Linked DNA regions of Homo sapiens: regions 2 and 3 are each linked to region 1. Evidence: fine-mapped expression QTL. A gene starts in region 1. Each other region holds a variant in brackets. All regions are shown on one strand. Distances are between the middles of the regions.

The links.
Region 2: its variant is fine-mapped to the expression of DDX18 in T cells (TOPMed, PIP above 0.99). The same link has a PIP of 0.9 or more in fibroblasts.
Region 3: its variant is fine-mapped to the expression of DDX18 in whole blood (INTERVAL, PIP 0.96).

Annotation. Positions count from the first base shown.
Region 1 is chr2:117,810,847-117,817,302 of GRCh38, reverse strand. DDX18 (DEAD-box helicase 18) reads right to left here and starts at 2,612. Exons shown (of 14, transcript NM_006773.4): 1 at 2,441-2,612. The coding sequence starts at 2,525. RefSeq lists enhancers at 1,755-2,290, 2,366-2,415, 2,436-2,485, 2,616-2,745, 2,291-2,828 and 1 more.
Region 2 is chr2:117,845,301-117,851,756 of GRCh38, reverse strand. No RefSeq gene overlaps it. Among named protein-coding and RNA genes, the nearest start is that of DDX18, 34 kb to the right of the region's middle. The variant G/A (reference allele first, on the strand shown) is at 2,922.
Region 3 is chr2:117,767,494-117,773,949 of GRCh38, reverse strand. No RefSeq gene overlaps it. Among named protein-coding and RNA genes, the nearest start is that of DDX18, 44 kb to the left of the region's middle. The variant A/G (reference allele first, on the strand shown) is at 3,783.

The DNA.
Region 1 (6,456 bases):
ATAGTTTTATGGTGTTCCCTTATAGGGAAAGTAAGTTATCTTAAAGAAAAAATACTGGAAAAGGGAAAGCTATATTGATTTCTTAACTGCAAAAGACCGTACATCTGACTTTAAGGAGTCTAGGACAGGAAAACTTCAATGAGGTCAAATATTTAAACAGATGAGGTCAGATAATGGCAGTTACAGAATAAACATAAGTATTTGATAAACATATGATTAACTGATATATTGAAAAAGACATTTACAACTCATTCACACAAGTACTATTTTTCATACCACTTCAAAACATTCAACCCCAACTCTTCTAGACTGCAGTGAGTTGAAAATTCAGTTGATAAGACCACTTATTTGCTCCAATATTTATCATATGCAAATACAGTAATGCGTGCACAATGACATTTCTGTGAATTAAGGACAACATATACAGTGGCTCCATAAGATTATAACGGAGCTAAAAAATTCCTATCACCTAGTGCCATCAGTAACTGCAATGTCGTAGTGCAACATATTACTCATGTTTGTAGTGATGCTAGTATAAACAAATCTACTGTAATGCCAGTCGTATAAAGTACAGCACACATAATTATGTACAATACATAATACGTGATAATAAACTATGTTACTTGTTTATGTGTTTACTATACTTTTGATCATCATTTTAGAGTTTACTCCTTTTACTTATTAAAAAAAAATGAGTCGACTGTAAAAGAGCCTCAGGGAGAGAGGTATTTTAGAAGGCACTGTTATCATAGGAGATGACAGCTCCATGCCTATTGTTGCCCCTGAAGATCTTCCAGTGGGACAAGATGTGGAAGCGGAAGACAGTGAAACTGAATGTGTCTGTGTCTTTACATTTTTAACAAAAAGCTTAAAAAGAAAAAAAAATAAAATAAAAATCACATAGAATAAGGACAAAAGGAAACTTTTTGTACAGCTGTATGTACAATGTGCTTGTGTTGTAAGCTAAGTGTTATTAAAGTCAAAAGGTTAAAATTTAACAAGTTTATAATGTAAAAGTTACAGCAGGCTAAGGTTAATTTAAGAATAAAAGTATTAAAAAACTCAACAGTGTAGCCCAAGTGTACAGTGTTTATAAAGTCTATAGTGTACAGTAATGTTCTAGGCCTTCACATTCACTCACCGCTCACTGACTCGCTCAGGGTAACTTCCAGTCCTGCAAACTCCATTCATGGTAAGTACTGTATACAGAGGTACCATTTTCTAAATCTCTCATGTCATAGTCTTTTTACTGTACCTTTTCTATGTTTAGATATATTTAGCCATACATACACTTACCATTGTGTTACAATTCTCTGAGTATAGTACAGTAACATGCTGTACAGGATGACAGCTTACGAGCAACAGGCTATATCATGTAGCCTGGGTGTGTAGTAGATTTAGGTTTGTGTAACTAGATAAAGTTCGCAAAACGACAAAAGCCCCTAATGACACATTTCTCACAATGTATCCCCCCTCCTGTTATGCGATGCATGACTGTACCTGAGAATGTCCTTACCAAAGGTTCCCTGTTTGTTTACTGAAAAAGATAAAACACCATCTTTTGTTCAAATTTACTTACATATGCGCTGAAAAGTAGTAATGCTGTAGTATTATTCTATAGGAATTAGAAATACAAGAGTATTTCAAAACATATTCCTAAAATTCACAAACCTATTGCCTCCTGCAGAATTTTTTTTCAATTAATGTCTGTTGAAAACCAACTGGGGCAAGGCACTGTGCCTCCAAACTTTCCCTCGGGGAGTTTGTATCTTAACCTGGACAACAGGTTAACACAATTACTTCAAGATCTGTGGCCCCACTGTCAGGACACTGGGACTGCAAATGAGGTAGGTAAGAAAGGTGACATTCAGATAAAATCCTTTTCATTTAGGTCACTGTGCGGGACACAAATACGTAGAAGCTCTGGTGAGAAAGTGCTACGAGAACGTGTGGAAGTGGGTAGAGGAAGGCAATAGTATCAAAGAAGCTCTGTGGAAACAGCCAGACGGGCTTTTGGGGAAAGAAATACGGGAATTAAATAGATGTGAAAAGTGGGTGGAAATGAGACGTTTCATGCAGCATAACCGGAAATGAGGGATGAGGTGAGGTGCGACTTGCAGGTGGTGAGGGAACCAAAAGCTAAGGTGGAAATGCAAAAGGCAGGGTTAGTCGTAAGCCTAGAAGTGAACGGGGAGTCCTCCCGCTCTAACGTTGTAAGAAGACACTGATTGCTCAGAAAGGTCAGGAGCAGCGCTGGAGCCACGCGACGAGTGGGCAGCAGCGCGGGTCCCGAGTGGAAGCTGCCTTTTCACTCTCCCCAATCACACACGCTGCAGGGGAAGCTGCCTCCGTCACACAGAGCAGCTGGGCCCCCGGCCGCCCGAACGCGCCAGGGCTCGCGCGTGGGTCTTCTGAGCCACCGCGAGTCAACGCATCTCACCCTGAAACTTTAGGTTCCGCTGCCGCAATTTGAGGTTCCGCTTCTCGATCTTCTTACGCAGGAGTTTCATCGGCAGGTGTGACATTCTGCCCAACAAGTGCCTAGAATAAGGCGCCACACAGTACAGCTACTCAGTTCTCAGGCTGACGTTACTTCCCTTCCGGCCGCACGTGCGCAGCTCGGCCAACAGGAAACGCGTCACAGGAACGCTGGCACCCGGCGGAACGAAAATGCTCCAGAGCGGAAATGCTTCCAGACGCGCGCACCGTGATATCTTTGGCGACCAAAATCTTTGCAGCGCCCCCTGGAGAAGTGGAAGCGAGACGCTGCACTGGCTTCACACTGTGCTAAAGCTAACTTGAGCTCCCCCTAGAGGAAGACTGAAGAAAGAACGTGGAGGGGAAGGAGGCCTTAGGGAGTCCGCATTTTTATGTTCCTATCCTCTGTGGGTGCAGAACTAGAGTTGGCCCTCCCTGTACCTGAATTCCCTGTCTGTGGATTCAACCAACTCCCCCATTGAAAACATTAAAAAAAAAACAATTAAAAATAATACAGTGTGATAACTACTTTCATAGCATTTAGGTTGTATAAGGTATTATAAGTCATTTAGAAATGATTTAAAGTATACAGGATGTTGTGTGTAAAATAAATGCAAATATTACACTATTGTATATAAGGGTTTTGAGTATCCTAAGATATTGGTACCCATAGAGGGTCCTGGACTCAATCCCTTGTGGATACTGAGGGACAACTGTATTTGGGAAACTGAATAGAACTAAATTATATATATGCATTTCCAAACTTGTTTGGCCACTCTCCTCAGAAATACAATTTCTGTGTCACTTGGTACACATACACACATAAATATAACATTTCTCAAAATAATATTCTTGCTTTTCACTCTTTTTCCTTCAATTCCATTCATTCCATCCTAAATTATTCTTTTTAGCTTACTAAAAATACTGATTCCTATGAATTTAAATTAACTTTACTACATTAATAATAGGTTGACTGCAGTTTGAAAAAGAGGTTTATATATTCCTTAAGTATACCCAAGGACCCTTCAGCAGTCCAGGACAGAAATTGCAATGTGGCTAGCTAATAGTCATCTCTTTTTTGGGATGGGGAGGAAGACAGGGGTATGCATATAGTATTTAATTTTTAAAAAAATTGTTATCAACATTAAAATACTTGGAGATTTCCATAAAAATTCATATTTGTCTTTAAAAATTGGCCCAATGCCCTCAAATTCCCCTTAACAGTAATCAATTTGAGCTGAACAACTGGAAGAGTCCATGAAACCTGGATTAATTTGTTTACTTGGAGGGGCAGAACATGAGACCCTGGAGATTAGACCTGATCATAGTGAGGAACAGAGAGGGAGAAAACTTGGGAGGGAGTTTAAACAGAATGTGAAGGAATTGACTTCGAAATCACATTGGATTGGACTGGAAAACTAAGACAAACAAATAATAATGTGCTTAGATTAATTTGTTAATGATCAGGCAGGCTGAAGAATGATTCAGAAATGTAAGAGCGCACACACACACGCAAACATTTATCTCAGTGTAAATATATATGCCAGTTTAAATTTATGCATATATCAGTATATATATGCATATACACATATGTATCTATTTCTATAGCTCTATGTACATACATATATATTTACCTGATTACATGTGTGAGTTTTGGGTCTGTGACTTTGAAATAGATACAACTGAAGTATATATAGAAAGTGCTCAAAATTTGTTATTTCTTTTATGTTGTAACTTAAATTTGTGGGGCTATGTTTTGGTAGTAGTAATGGAAAGGTACTCCCTTTTTTCTAGAGTGTGACTTTTTCTAGCTAGTAGTGAAGATTGGCAGTCATTTCCTCAAAACCAAAAAAACCCACATTTACGAGGTGTTTAAGACATTTAGATCAGAGAAGCCGATCCTTTCAGGTGCATGGAAATGCTTAACGTTAGGGATTGATAACCTTTTAAGAAACATAGATAAAGCTACTGATGCCAATTCTTCTGGATTTTTAGAAGAAGAATGAGAAATTATAACTTCAAATCAACTCTCAAAATTAGGGTTGAGAGTTATTTTTAACAGAGTGAATTTCCAAGGCCACATCATCAGTTACTCTAGCAAAGAAAACAATGTCATTGGGTTAGCTACTCAAAAATTACCTGTGAGGATGAGGTAACAATCACGTGCTTCTGAAAAGCCTGTTGTTCTTCACAGCTGGAGCCTATCCCAGTATCTATTCAGAATGCGTTTCAGTCTTTAAAACTTCTTGCTTGGGCTCTCCATCACAGAGGTCTCTCTCTTCAGAATATGGTCATTCGCCATAAAACAATCGCATAATATAGTCATTATGCAACTATTTTTTGAGCATTTTTGTGCTAAGAGTGTGTGGTAGGCATGTGCCAAATCCTGGGTATAAAATGGTGGACAAGATAGACCTGGCTCGCCTAGGTGGAGCTTACAGAGCTTACAAGGAAGACAGAAAATTAAACGATTATGGTAAACTATGATGAATGCAGTGAAAAGGAAGCACATCACAGGAGCAACATCCTAGCCTTGGGAAGGGGTCTGGGGATGGAGTCTGTCATTCAATATTCATTATGCATAGGGACTGAGCCAGCAGCAGGCAGAAGCAGGAAGGGAGTTGCTGTCTTTTTTTTGTTGGTTTGTTTGTGTGTTTTGAGACAGAGTTTTGCTCTTGTTGCCCAGGCTGGAGTTCAATGGCGCGAACTTGGCTTACCGCAACCTCCGCCTCTGGGTTCAAGTGATTCTCCTGCCTCAGCCTCCCAAGTAGCTGGGATTACAAGCATGCACCACTATACCCAGATAATTTTGCATTTTTAGTAGAGACAGGGTTTCTCCATGTTATTCACGCTGGTCTCGAACTCCTGACCTCAGGTGATCCATCCGCCTCAGCCTCCTAAAGTGCTGAGATTACAGGCATGAGCCACCGCACCTGGCCAGGAGTTTCTGTCTTTTACCTCCTGACTAAAAATAATTAAGTTTAACATAGAACAGGTCTTATTCATGCTGTTTTGTTTTTCAGTTTTCACTTGAGATCCTTAAACCTGAGACAAGTGTTTGTAAAATAAAACGCAGATTTGTGTAGTTTGTCATTCAAATTAAAAACGTCCCACTTCACTGGGAAAAGAAATCAATCTATTTCACCAACATCATAGAATTGTGAGCCAGAAATAACTGACTCATCCTCTCGGATCACTGCATTAGGACTCTTGAAGTGATTTTCTAGGAACTTTCAAATGCTATTTTCTATAAGGTTAACCACTCTGTTGTGTATTGGAACTTAAAAAGTGCTATGTTATTGTAAATAAGCATGATGTTGCCTCCTTCACATTACCTGACTTTCCTGGACCAGCATCTGGTTCTGTGTATTTCTACATTGTAGAAAGCAGATGGCTGGTACTTAAGAAAGGTTTTCTTCAGTGAACTGATGGACATAAGAGTGAGAGATTATTTTAAAGAGCATCACCACAATTCATGACAAGTCATTATTGCAGTGGTCCTAGGAGCTGGAGAGGATACAGAAACATATAACAGAAACTTTTCTGTCAAGAAGTTTATTCATTTATTAATTTAAAAAAATACCATCTATCCATTCCAGGTACTGTTTTAGGCCTCAGGGATCAGCAGTAAACAAGACAGGAAAAGTCCTCATTTCCAGGGAGATTACAGCCTGGATAAGAGACGACAGGTATAAGTAAACCTTGTGATTGAACAAGATACCTTTGCATGAAGCTAAATGCTGGGAAGACATTACAACCAGACAATGCAATATAATAAAGAGGGATGGGTGGGAGGGCAGGACAGCATGCTATTCAGGTGGGAGGTATTTTTTGAGGAGGCAAAGATCTAAGGTCAGAGAAAAGGCTGTCAAAGACAAGTCTTAATATGCTATTAAGTAACAATTCAAGGGATCAAGAGCAGATTTGTAGTCAGGAGCATAAGAGGAGATTTGCAGGGGGAAAGAGTCTAGGGGCTGG
Region 2 (6,456 bases), 34 kb before region 1:
TAAACAGTGCAAAACCCCCAAAAGAGGGAACTTTCCTGAGGTCAGAGTTATTAAATCTGCCAGGATACCTGGTGTGAAGTTTAAAAAAGAGAGCATGTCATGAAGACATGCCACCTCATCCTTCCTGCTCCCTTCATAGCTTCATTCTGCTCCTAACCACACAGACGGGTGAGTTCCTGAACAAGAAAGTCGGTGTGCACACACCAACACACATGCACACACACACACCCCTCTGGGAAACAAGCAAAATTTTTTTAGGGATAGTCTAAATCCACATTTAGAGAAATTTTTTTCCCCTAAAGGGAATGTGATGAACAGAGAAGCCTGCCACATATAGGGAAATGCTCTTTTATGGGGCCAAGCAGCCCTGTTTCCCTCCTTGTTGCTCCTAAACCTCTCTGTTCCAGAAGGGATTGCTGCTTTACTTTGGCATTACCAAAAGGCTTAGACAAAGAAATTGCTTGACATCACAGGTGAAATTCAGACCTCTGCCTCCAGAGAAACTGAAAAAGTGCCTGCAACTTTAGCCATCTTTCTTCCTCACCCACTGCTTGTCTCCACCAGGATTTTAGAAAATCATATGGAGAAAATAAAGTTATATACACAAAAAATCCTGCACATCGTTGTTTGTAGCATATTTATTCATAATTGCGTACTTGCCAAAACTGGGAAGCAACCAAGAATAAAGCCAAAATCATTTGATCTAGTCCCAGTCAGGTACCCCATTATATCTGCAGTTGGAAATAAATGGATGTGCATCCTCTATACATTAATATATGCCATAATGTTATCTGCCTTCATAAAACTGTTTTAACCTCTGATTATGTTTTACACTGAAATACAATAATTAAAGGCACACTCCTTTCCTATGTTATAAACTACTATTGTTGGTACTCAACCAAAATGAAGAGTTTTGCTCTATGTGTGGAAACGGATCTGGGCTTGATGTTGGTCCCAGCCTCCTCAGTGCTGCGGATTTGCTTTAGAATAAAAGTGGGTGGAAATCATTTCTCCAGATAAGCAATGGGCTTATCTCCAGCCCACTATCAAAGCAGTGTTAAGGATCAGTTGGAGACAGGGAAAAGAAAACAGGTTCAAGGAAACATCGAGGCATAATTGGCATTTGTTTTCCTACTGTGTGTGGGTGTTGAAGCTAATTTGTTTGCAGGAACGTGGGGAAAGATAGTGCCTTAGAGTAGTTGTTCCTCCTACTACTCTTGGAGTTTTAATTAGCAGATGGGCTCCTTCCCCCACCACCTGCCAGCTGCTTTCTTTTCACATGACCAAAGGTAGTTTTTAAAAATTTCCATGCATTCAAACCTCAGCTCTTAAAAATGCCCTTTTTCTCATGAAAAGATCTCTAATGAAGACTCTGGGTCAAGAATGAAAAGTTTCCCAGAGTCAACAATGATAATAAAGACCACCCAATAACTGCAAGAATCCTGTACAAACAGGTCACATCCCATGGGCGGGGACTCCGCTGGGTTTGAAATTCTCACTGGCTCATCTTTCCACCTGTTGTGCTCTCCTCCCTCCCTCATCAGGAGGGGTGAGGGGATAGAAGCAGGATCAGGTGGGGAGGGAGAGGGAGCACGTGGAGGAGAGTGTGTGTCTCAGCTGATCTCTTCTGCATTTTAAGCTGCTCGTAGGAAGGCGAAATTGGAAAGGAGGGCTGTAATGAGGTCGAGAATTACCCACATTCCCCCTGCAGGCTAATTTACTCCCCTACTCAGAGCTGCGTGAAGTTCAGGGTAGCCAGGACCAGGGGATTTAGCCCCAGAGCCTGTAACTGAACCATCAGCCCTGGAATAACCAGTAGTTGCAATTTCTAACTAACTTCGGAGAAGCAAAATAAAAAAGTGCTTAAAAACCAAAATGATTAAAAGAACCCCAAGGCTCGTAATTTGGAAATGTCAATTAGGAAACACATCATTGAGAAAAGTATAGATTAGAAAAATAAATCAAGACAAGATGATACTTATAAGTTTAATGTCTAGATTAATAGGATGACAATAGAGGGCCATAAAGAAATATCTTACCCATGCATTGCTTGTCAGTGAATGATAGCTATAAGGTTTTAGAGAAAAGCATGAAATATTTTGAAAAATGCATGAGTTTAAGTATAGATTCTAAGAAAAACCCCTCACTCACTATCTTACTTCACGTGCTGTGATGAAAATGGCAATTCTGCCCAAGACCCTGGGGCAGAAGGTATTCTGATTTCTGGAAGCCCTTGCCTTTCATTCGTCTCCAGGAAGTTTCTGAAATGAATTCAAATTCTCCAGCTGCAGAGAAAGGCTCTGGTGGTTTCTGATTCCCTGGTGTGCTGACTGGCAGCTGTAAATGAACTTCAGAATTTCGAAGGAGTAATACTTTCCAGTTGCCCAGGTTCCGTCAGGGTTCCCTCGTTTTCTCCGCCCAGGCTTTCTTCTCCTGTACTGATCTTTGTCTTTGCTGGAATTTGATTTCCTATGGGTGGTAGGAGAGAGTCTTTACCACGCCTCCTCCTCAGAGTTTCTTTGATGTTTATAATTTCTGATTCCAGCACATTCCAGGCACATGGTTTTTATCTTGCAAAATCTGAACTTTTTTTCTGGACTTTACAGAAATCCAGTCTCTGGATCCCCTTCCTCTAAGCAAACGTACCTTTCACTTTTTTTTTTTCTTTTGAGACAGAGTTTCCACTCTTGTTGCCCAGGCTGGAGTGCAATGGTGCGATCTCAGCTCACTGTAACCTCCGCCTCCTGGGTTCAAGTGATTCTCCTGCCTCAGCCTCCTGAGTAGCTGGGATTACAGGCATGCGCCACCATGCCCGGCTGATTTTTGTGTTTTTAGTAGAGATGGGGTTTTGCCATGTTGGCTAGGGTAGTCTTGAACTCCTGACCTCAGGTCATCCACCCACCTCAGCCTCTCAAAGTGGT[G/A]GGATTACAGGCATGAGCCACCGCGCCCGGCCAGCTCTCACCTTTAAAAATACAGTTTGTGCAATGGATTATTTTCCTACTGTGAAATTTTCTTTGGGTTTCTAAGGGTCATAGAGAAAACAGAAGACGTTCAAGATTCTTGTTCTTTTTGCTCCCACTGTTCTTTCAGCATCTCCGCATACTTACCCAGAAATGATGTGACCCAAGTCTTGGTTTGCTGTCACCGAGTGAAGAAAGAAGGGGAGCTCTGGAGCCCAGCAGGTGCAAATGCCTGCCTGGTCACCACCAGGTCGCGGGTACAGTCACTATGGGCAGGAGGCTTCATTGCTCTGCACATTGTCCCCATGGCCTTCTTGCAGCTTGCCTCTCTCCTCCAGGGAGTGACTGCCTTGGCACACTCTGTTCCAAATAAGACCTGACAAACAAGTGTGATGGATGTTTCCTGTCTTTCCTCTTCTTCCTCCGTTCTCCTCCTTTCCTTTCATTCTCTTTTTTTTAAGGCCATCATAGTTGACACCAAGATCCCCCTTTCAGGACTGAAGGACTGAGTTGTCCCTCCCTCCCTGTTTTAGTCCATTTTCAAGCTGCTGATAAAGACATACCCGAGACTGGGAAGAAAAAGAGGTTTAATTGGAGTTACAGTTCCACATGGCTGGGGAGGCCTCAGAATCATGGCAGGAGGTGAAAAGCACTTCTTACATGGCGGCGGCAAGAGAAAATGAGGAAGAAGCAAAAGTGCAAACCCCTGATAAACCCATAAGATCTCATGAGACTTATTCACTATCATGAAAATAGCACGGGAAAGACTGGCCCCCATAATTCAATTACCTCCCCCTGGGTCCCTTTCTGGGAAATACAATTCAAGTTGAGATTTGGGTGGAGACACAGGCAAACCGTATCACTCCCCTTCTCGGCTGCTGGGAAAGCTTCCACAAACAGCCTTCACCTCACCACACAGCCTCTTCTGGAATCACCTCACACAAGGCTGCTGCCTGTTCCAGGAGCAGCCCTCAGACATGATCAACACAGCATATAAAGGCCCAGGCCCCAGCCCCAACTTGAGGCTCAGAAGGGTCTGATCAGCTTCACAACTTCCCAGTGGGGTTAGCTGTGACTTTTGTCAAAACTGTCATGCCTCAGCTTCCCCCTTGGCCCAAATCTTCCTACATTCCCTGCATACCAATCCCCGTCTCAGTGTCTGTGTCCTAGCGAACCTGACCTACAAGAATCATGATGAGGTAGGATAAAGAAGGCACAATTCAATGGACAAAAGAAATCTACACTCAACAGGTCCATCGTGATAAAAGATGGTGACCAATGAAAGGTCATCACTTAGCATTCCATTCAAACAACATATTTATGGGGAAAAAAATCAATGGGAGAGAGTAGTCAGGGGAAGCTTCCTGGAGGAGGTGGAGTGAGAGCTGTTGTTCGTGGGTAGTAGGAATTGAAAAGGAGGAGGAACAACGCTGAGGACTTTAGGTAGGGAATTGCTTAAGCAATTTGAAAATGAACATCCTTAGTTTGTGATACGGCGAGTTTTATGTGGGCAAAGCAGACATGTGGTTTGGATAAGCTAGATGGTGTTTAGTTAGATTTGGAAGAATTTTGACAGCCAGGTTGAGATGCCTGAGCTCCCCCAAGCAGTGAGGAACAATGAGACATAGTGGTGCAGAAGAGGGACTTGAATGTTATTTAGGTGGAGGTGATGCTGAATAATTGTTTAGGCTGGGTGGCAGAGATTTCATGATCATAGTTGATACCAGTAGTTGAAACAATCACTCCTAATTTTACTTATTTTTAAGAAAATTACTACATTTTCATTTTGTTGTAGAGTATTACAACATTCGAGGTTGGTGCCAAATTAATTGTGGTTTTGCAAAACCGCAATTAATTTTGCACCAACCTAATAGAACAGTGACTCAAGTCTCACAAGGTGTGTGGCTGTTTTAGCAACTGTCGACAGCTCCATTGCAGTGACACCTCCCCCTCCCGGCTGTTGGCACATTATGATGGGAGTTTGAGAGAGGCTGCTTGACGGCACCACCAGACTTTTCCTGTTGCATTTGTGTGTGCAGGAGTATTATTTTACCAGCAGTCTATATGATGAGTTAGTGCTGGGATTACTTTGAAGGGAGGAAACCTTTTGGGTGACAATTTCCACGGATCCAAGCGGGGAGTGAAAGGAACAAGGACCCAGGCAAGGGCAATGGAGAAGGACAAGAACAAACATTTCGAGGGAATTGGCCAGATTAATTGGAATTGCCAAAGAGAGCTCAATTCTGCCTGATGGAACTTTTAAACAGGGAAGATGGGGGTAGGAGTGGGTAGTTGGAATCTGAGGCTCCAGGGGCTTCCAGACCCCATCCTTCCAATGGACCAAAAGTGCTGTCGCCTGGTAAGGCCCAGAGCATATCTGTCCCTTTCACTCTTGCTTCCCAAATTATCCCACTTCACATATTTGGGGTAAAATGAACTGACCTCAACAAGGAGGCCACACCCCCTCACTCTGAGTTTCTTTCTCATGAAGGCAAATGGTTTGCCCTGAGCCATGCACAGTCGCTATAACTTGTGACCAAAGGGTGTGAATAGGGTTGCAGATCTGGTGTGCGACTAGGACGCAGTTGGTATCAGAACTGTCCTCAGTTGGAGGGTATCTAGCCCATGGGGACAAGAGCCAGCAGCCTTGAACTTGTTAGCATGGAAGCCTCATTTCCCCGCTTTGCCTTGGGCATCAGGATGCTTAGAGCGGTATTTAATTTAATTTTTTATTGTGGTTTTACATATATATATATGTATATATATACACACATATATACATATTACATTTTATAAACATAAAATTTATCATTTTAAACATTTTAAAGTGTACAATTCAGCAGCATTAATTACCTTCACAACATATGCAACCACCACTACTATTCCCAAACTTTTTTTTATCACCTCAAACAAAAACTGTCTAACCATGAAGCCATAACTCCTCATTTTCCCTTCTCCCAACCCCTGGTAACCTCTAATTAACTTTATTTTTCTATTAGTTTTGCCTATTCTAGATACTTTAAGTAAAATTGTATAGTATTTGTCTTCTTGTGTCTGGCTATTTTCACTTAGCAAAGTGTTTTCAAGGTTCATCCATCTTGTAGCATGTGTCAGAATTTCATCCCTTTTCATCTTCCGTTGGAATATATAAACCTCATTTTATTTCTGGATTCATCTGTTGATGGACATTTGGGCTGTTTACATCTTTTGGTTATTGTAAATAAGGCTGCAAAGACATAGACATACAAGTATCTGGTGGAGTCCCTGTTTTCATTTCCTTTGGAGTGGAATTGTTGCGTCATATGATAATTCTATGTTTAACTTATTGATGAACTGGTGAACTGTTTTCCACTGTGGCTGTGCCATGTTACACTCCCCCAGCAGTGTATAAGGGTTACAATTTCTTCACATTCTTGCAACATTTGTTATTTTCCATTTTTTCTTTTCTTTTTAAATTATAGCCATCTCAGTCAGTGTTCCTTGTATCTCACTGTGG
Region 3 (6,456 bases), 43 kb after region 1:
CCCTGTGGCTTGCTTTTTTTGTTTACTTTCTTCATGCTATCATTTGATGAACAGAAATTCTACATTTTTATTTACACATCTTATTCTTTACAGTTGTGTTTTGTTTAAGAAGCCTTTTCTTGTCAAAATATGGCTTGCTGGGCCCCACTGCCAGACTTCCTGAATCAGCAGGTCTGGGGTGAGGCTGGAGAATTTGTATTCCTAACAAGTTCCCAGGTGATGCTAACACTGTCTGGAGACTACACTTTAAGAACCACTGATGTAGAAACGTTGCTGATTTGCCTTTCATATTTATGTCTAGAGTCCATCAGAAATTATGAATTAAGGGTTGGCTTTAATTTTTTTCATATGGAAATCTAAGAAGCATTCGTTGACAGACAGTCCTTTCTCCACTGTTCTGTGAACCACCGTTCAAATGTCCATGAATCTGTTTCTGGGTTCTCTAGTTTATACCATCAGTCTCTTTGCCTATTGTTGAACCAGTACCACGCTGTCTTAATTACTGTAATGTTATCATAGGCCTTGATATATGGTCGAGCACCTTTTACCTTTCCTTTTTCTTCAATACACATTTACTGCCAGCTTATCAATTCTGTCTGTCTCTCTCTCTCTCACACACACACACACACACACACAGTGTGCACCCATAAACACATGCACAGACATACACCCTGTTGGGATTTTGATTAGAAGTGCATTGAATCTATAGATCATTTGGAAGGATTCACATGTTTACAATATTAAACCTTTAAACCTCCTATCCAGTTCTTTCCAATTTTTTTCCTATGCTCCCCCTGAAACTGAAGGAGCCCCCCGGTTTTTTTTTTTTACTTTTTTCCCTAACTTCTCCTACTGTGAAATTTTAATACCACAGGTATACTGTATATCTTTGCTTTGCATATAAGAAGATTTTTTTATCATCCTAAAACCTAACACTTTTCCCTTTCGGGGCTATTTTACCCTTGTTGTGAATGAGTCCCTTGTATTGAGAAATCCCTTCATTCAATCAATTCAGTTCAATTCCTTGGATTGAAATCCCCAATTTCATTTATTTAGATATTCTTTAATTTCTCTTAGTAATATTTTATCATTTTTCTGTGTAGCAGTCAAAATGTATCTAGTTTCAAGTTGATTCTTCGGTATTTGATATTTTGGAATGTAGGGTTCATGCCCTTCTGGGTTGGCTGTACAGCCCCCAAGCAGGCTTAGGTGAACAGGTGAGGTCACCATTGTGCAGGGCACCTTGGCCTCCTAGCTTCACATCTAAACACCTGCCATCTGGGTGCCCCACCTTACAAAGTCTTGATTTGTAGACTCCATTTTTCAAGACATATTACTTGAAAGTCCCAGTCTAATTCCAAACCCATTTGTCATTTGTGGCTATGAAATAAAATAATATGTATGGGTTTAACTGCAGAACAGATATTTTGAAAGGAAGGACATGTCTTGGAAAGTGTTCAAAATTAAGGCATAAGCAACATTAATTTTTTTTTCCTGGTTTACAAGAACCAGAGTGAAAACGAGTCAGTAGATGGCACTGTTTCTTAATAGATAGAGAAAACCCTACACTGGTGGAAGAGGTTTGAATGGAAACATTTTTTTTTCCATTAAATTGGAATTAAGAATAATATAAATAAAACTTTAAAAAAAAGTTCTGTGGGATCCCTTGCGATCTACTTCTCTGGTGAGCTTAATTAAAGTCAATGAAGAAGCTTAAGCTCCTACACCCTCTCTTACTCTTGGTGGGCTCTTGCTCTAATTGTGTCTTCTCTCAGACAAGGCTAAGCTAAGTGACAGTGTATTGTACAGTTGGCGAGGTCAGAATAAAGTCACTGAGACAGAAGTCCCAGGTGCCTCCTGTGTGTGGCCCTGTGCTCTGGCAGAAGGCAATGCTGGTTTTCATTGTCAGCACCATCTGTGCAGGAGACATCACAAAGCATGAGAGGACTAAACCGAAGAGTCTCCTCTCAGTGTGTTTTCCATGCAGCAGAGCAGAAGATCTGGTTGCAAATCCTGCCTTAGCTGCGTCCTACCTATTTAACCTTGGTAAACGATTTCGTCTCACTGATTTCAATTTTGTTACCTGGAAAATGGAGATAATCTCTACATCACAAGATGCTGTGAAGATTAAATGAGGTGATATATGTAGAGCATTTAGCCTGGTTACCCAGTGACAACATGCTTTTGTGATTATTCCATGCTTTTTGGGGTTTGGAAGTGGCATGGAAAGTAGACCTCATGGGTTTCAAGTGGTAACTGTCCTGTGCCCAGGTAAAAAAATGTCAGCAAATCTGGCCACTTGTGTTGCTCTCACTCAAGTTTAAACTATGCAAACTAGGAATATGGCCTTAAATGGCAGAACTACTTTTGCTTCCTGGGTTCCCTGAGGTACTTTAAAAACATGCCAATGCCCCAGCCCTGGAGATTCTGATTTAATTGGTCTGGCATGGGCCAGCTCCCCAGGTGACTCTAGTTGGCAGCTTGTTTAGATGCCCAGTCTACAGTGTGCTGTCTTTACACAGTGTTATCTGCAAAGGTGAGACCAGGTCTCAGTCTTCTCTTGCAGTTTCAGGTTAGTATCTGAGTATCTGTGAGATATCCGAGCTCATCATTTCTTCCTGGGTACTGTGCAGTCGGCTCAGGTAAGTCGCTGACAGGTACATTTGACAGAAGATTCAGACAGGGTAGAGGTGTGATTAAAATATATGTGGCTTGTCTTCTCCTTAGATGTGCTTTCTGAAACACTGAAATAAAGCTCTATGAGGAAATCACAGAGAACACCATGAAATACTGTATTTTTTCTCATTTTCTATCTTTGTCTATGTTTTTGTTTCTGTTTATGTATACGTCTCTGTGTCTGTCTGCTCTCTTGATGTCTTGCCTGTTTGTCTTTGATTTTGTCTGTTCTGTTCCTTTCTGTCTCTGTGTGTCTTGCTGCTCTGTATCTGTATGTCTGCTCTATTTCTGTTTGTTTACTTTGTCTGTATCTGTCTCTCTCTTGACTTGTTTGTCTTGGTGGGACCTGATTTATGCACTCAAGGGTCATTGTGCATATTAGTCAGGCTTCTCCAGAGAAACCAACAGGGTGTGTGTGTGTGTGTGTGTGTGTCTGTGTGTGTGTGTGTGTGTGTATGTTTGTATGTATGGAATTGGCTCACATGGTTTGAAGACTGAGAAGTCCCAAGATCTGATGTCAGTCAGCTGAAGTCCCAGGAGAGTAGATGGTGTAATTTCCAATCTAAGTTTGAGTATGAAGACAGAAAATGATTGATGTCCCAGTTTGAAGATAGTCAGATGGAGAGAGAGAGAATTCTTTCTTATTTATTCTTTTTGTTCTATTCAGGCCTTCAAGGGATTGGATAATGCTCACCTACATTAGGTAGGGTAATCTGCTTTACTAAGTCTACCAATTCAAACATTAATCTCACCCAGAAACAGTCCCACAGGCATGCTTAAATGATGTTTCATCAAATATCTAGGCATTCTGTGGCTCAGTCAAGTTAACACATAAAATTAAGCATCACACCATGCAAGTCCATTATGTCCACCACCCTAGAACTTCTGGGTCTAGAAGTCTTAATTTGGCTGACCAAGGGTCAAATTTGCCTCTCAGGTACATGTTGCTGGTCTCCTGCCTGCATCTGTGTATTATACCCAGTGAGCTTTACTCTGTACATTATCCATCTGACCACTTTTCTAGGACATGGCCAGGTGCGAGGTCACTAAACTTGTGCCCCTTTTCTATCTACTCCACTCTACTGCAGCCAAGCTAGATTAAATAT[A/G]GTTTTTTAATGTCTGTGAGAAAATCAAAGCATGTTTGTAACCCTCACTGGCAATATTACTCAGCTAAAAGTATTCAACAACTTGACTACATAACTCTTTGGTTTCTTCTCTGTCCTCTATCCTGGAAAGAAAACCCACCACATTATTGACTTATCCATGGAAAGAAAGGGATTTCATTCATTTGTACCCTCTTTACCAGGGTGACCCCACAGTGGTTTTTATGTCCTGCTTCCTCAGGAACGAGGGAGGTTTTCTTCCCTTTCCCCCTTCTTCTTCTTCTTCTTTATCTTTTTAAAGTCACTTAGTGCTCCTTCCTCACTGGAACTTTGCCTGACATCTCCAGATACTGAATTCCTTTATCAACTAGGACATACACCATTGGGCTGCTCTGGATGTAAACTGTCTTCTGTAAATAGCTTGGAGTTTAAAAATACAAGTTTGATCCTAAATATATATGCACCCAATACAGGAGCACCCAGATTCATAAAGCAAGTCCTGAGTGACCTACAAAGAGACTTAGGACTCCCACACAATAATAATGGGAGACTTTAACACCCCACTGTCAACACTAGACAGATCAACGAGACAGAAAGTTAACAAGGATACTCAGGAATTGAACTCAGCTCTGCACCAAGCGGACCTAACAGACATCTACAGAACTCTCCACCCCAAATCAACAGAATATACATTTTTTTCAGCACCACACCACACCTATTCCAAAATTGACCACATAGTGGGAAGTAAAGCTCTCCTCAGCAAATGTGAAAGAACAGAAATTATCACAAACTGTCTCTCAGATCACAGTGCAATCAAACTAAAACTCAGGATTAAGAAACTCACTCAAAACCGCTCAACTACATGGAAACTGAACAACCTGCTCCTGAATGACTACTGGATACATAACGAAATGAAGGCAGAAATAAAGATGTTCTTTGAAACCAACGAGAACAAAGACACAACATACTAGAATCTCTGGGACACATTCAAAGCAGTGTGTAGAGGGAAATGTATAGCACTAAATGCCCACAACAGAAAGCAGGAAAGATCCAAAATTGACACCCTAACATCACAATTAAAAGAACTAGAAAAGCAAGTGCAAACACATTCAAAAGCTAGCAGAAGGCAAGAAATAGCTAAAATCAGAGCAGAACTGAAGGAAATAGAGACATAAAAATCCCTTCAAAAAATTAATGAATCCAGGAGCTGATTTTTTGAAAGGATTAACAAAATTGATAGACTGCTAGCAAGACTAATAAAGAAAAAAAGGGAGAAGAATCAAATAGATGTAATAAAAAAATGATAAAGGGGATATCACCACCGATCCTACAGAAATACAAACTACCATCAGAGAATACTACAAACACCTCTATGCAAATAAACTCGAAAATCTAGAAGAAATGGATAAATTCCTCGGCACATACACCCTCCCAAGACTAAACCAGGAAGAAGTTGAATCTTTGAATAGGCCAATAACAGGATCTGAAATTCTGGCAATAATCAATAGCTTACCAACCAAAAAGAGTCCATGACCAGATGGATTCACAGCCAAATTCTACCAGAGGTACAAGGAGGAACTGGTACCATTCCTTCTGAAACTATTCCAATCAGTAGAAAAAGAGGGAATCCTCCCTAACTCATGAGGCCAGCATCATCCTGATACCTAAGCTGGGCAGAGACACAACCAAAAAAGATAATTTTAGACCAATATCTTTGATGAACATTGATGCAAAAATCCTCAGTAAAATACTGTCAAGGCGAATCCAGCAGCACATCAAAAAGCTTATCCACCATGATCAAGTGGGCTTCATCCCTGGGATGCAAGGCTGGTTCAATATAAGCAAATCAATAAATGTAATCCAGCATATAAACAGAACCAAAGACAAAAACCACATGATTATCTCAATAGATGCAGAAAAGGCCTTTGACAAAATTCAACAACCTTCATGATAAAAACTCTCAATAAATCAGGTATTGATGGGACGTATCTCAAAATAATAAGAGCTATCTATGACCAACCCACAGCCAATATCATACTGAATGGGCAGAAACTGGAAGCATTCCCTTTGAAAACTGGCACAAGACAGGAATGCCCTCTCTCACCACTCCTATTCAACATAGTGTTGGAAGTTCTGGCCAGGGCAATTAGGCAGGAGAAGGAAATAAAGGGTATTCAGTCAGGAAAAGAGGAAGTCAAATTGTCCCTGTTTGCAGACGACATGATTGTATATCTAGAAAACCCCATCATCTCAGCCCGAAATCTCCTTAAGCCGATAAGCAACTTCAGCAGTCTCAGGATACAAAATCAATGTACAAAAATCACAAGCATTCTTATACACAAATAACAGACAAACAGAGAGCCAAATCATGAGTGAACTCCCATGCACAATTGCTTCAAAGAGAATAAAATACCTAGGAATCCACCTTACAAGGGATGTGAAGGACCTCTTCAAGGAGAACTACAAACCACTGCTCAATGAAATAAAAGTGGATACAAACAAATGGAAGAACATTCCATGCTCATGGGTAGGAAGAATCAATATCATGAAAATGGCCATACTGCCCAAGGTAATTTATAGATTCAATGCCATCCCCATCAAGCTACCAATGACTTTCTTCACAGAATTGGAAAAAACTACTTTAAAGTTCATATGGAACCGAAAAAGAGCCTGCATC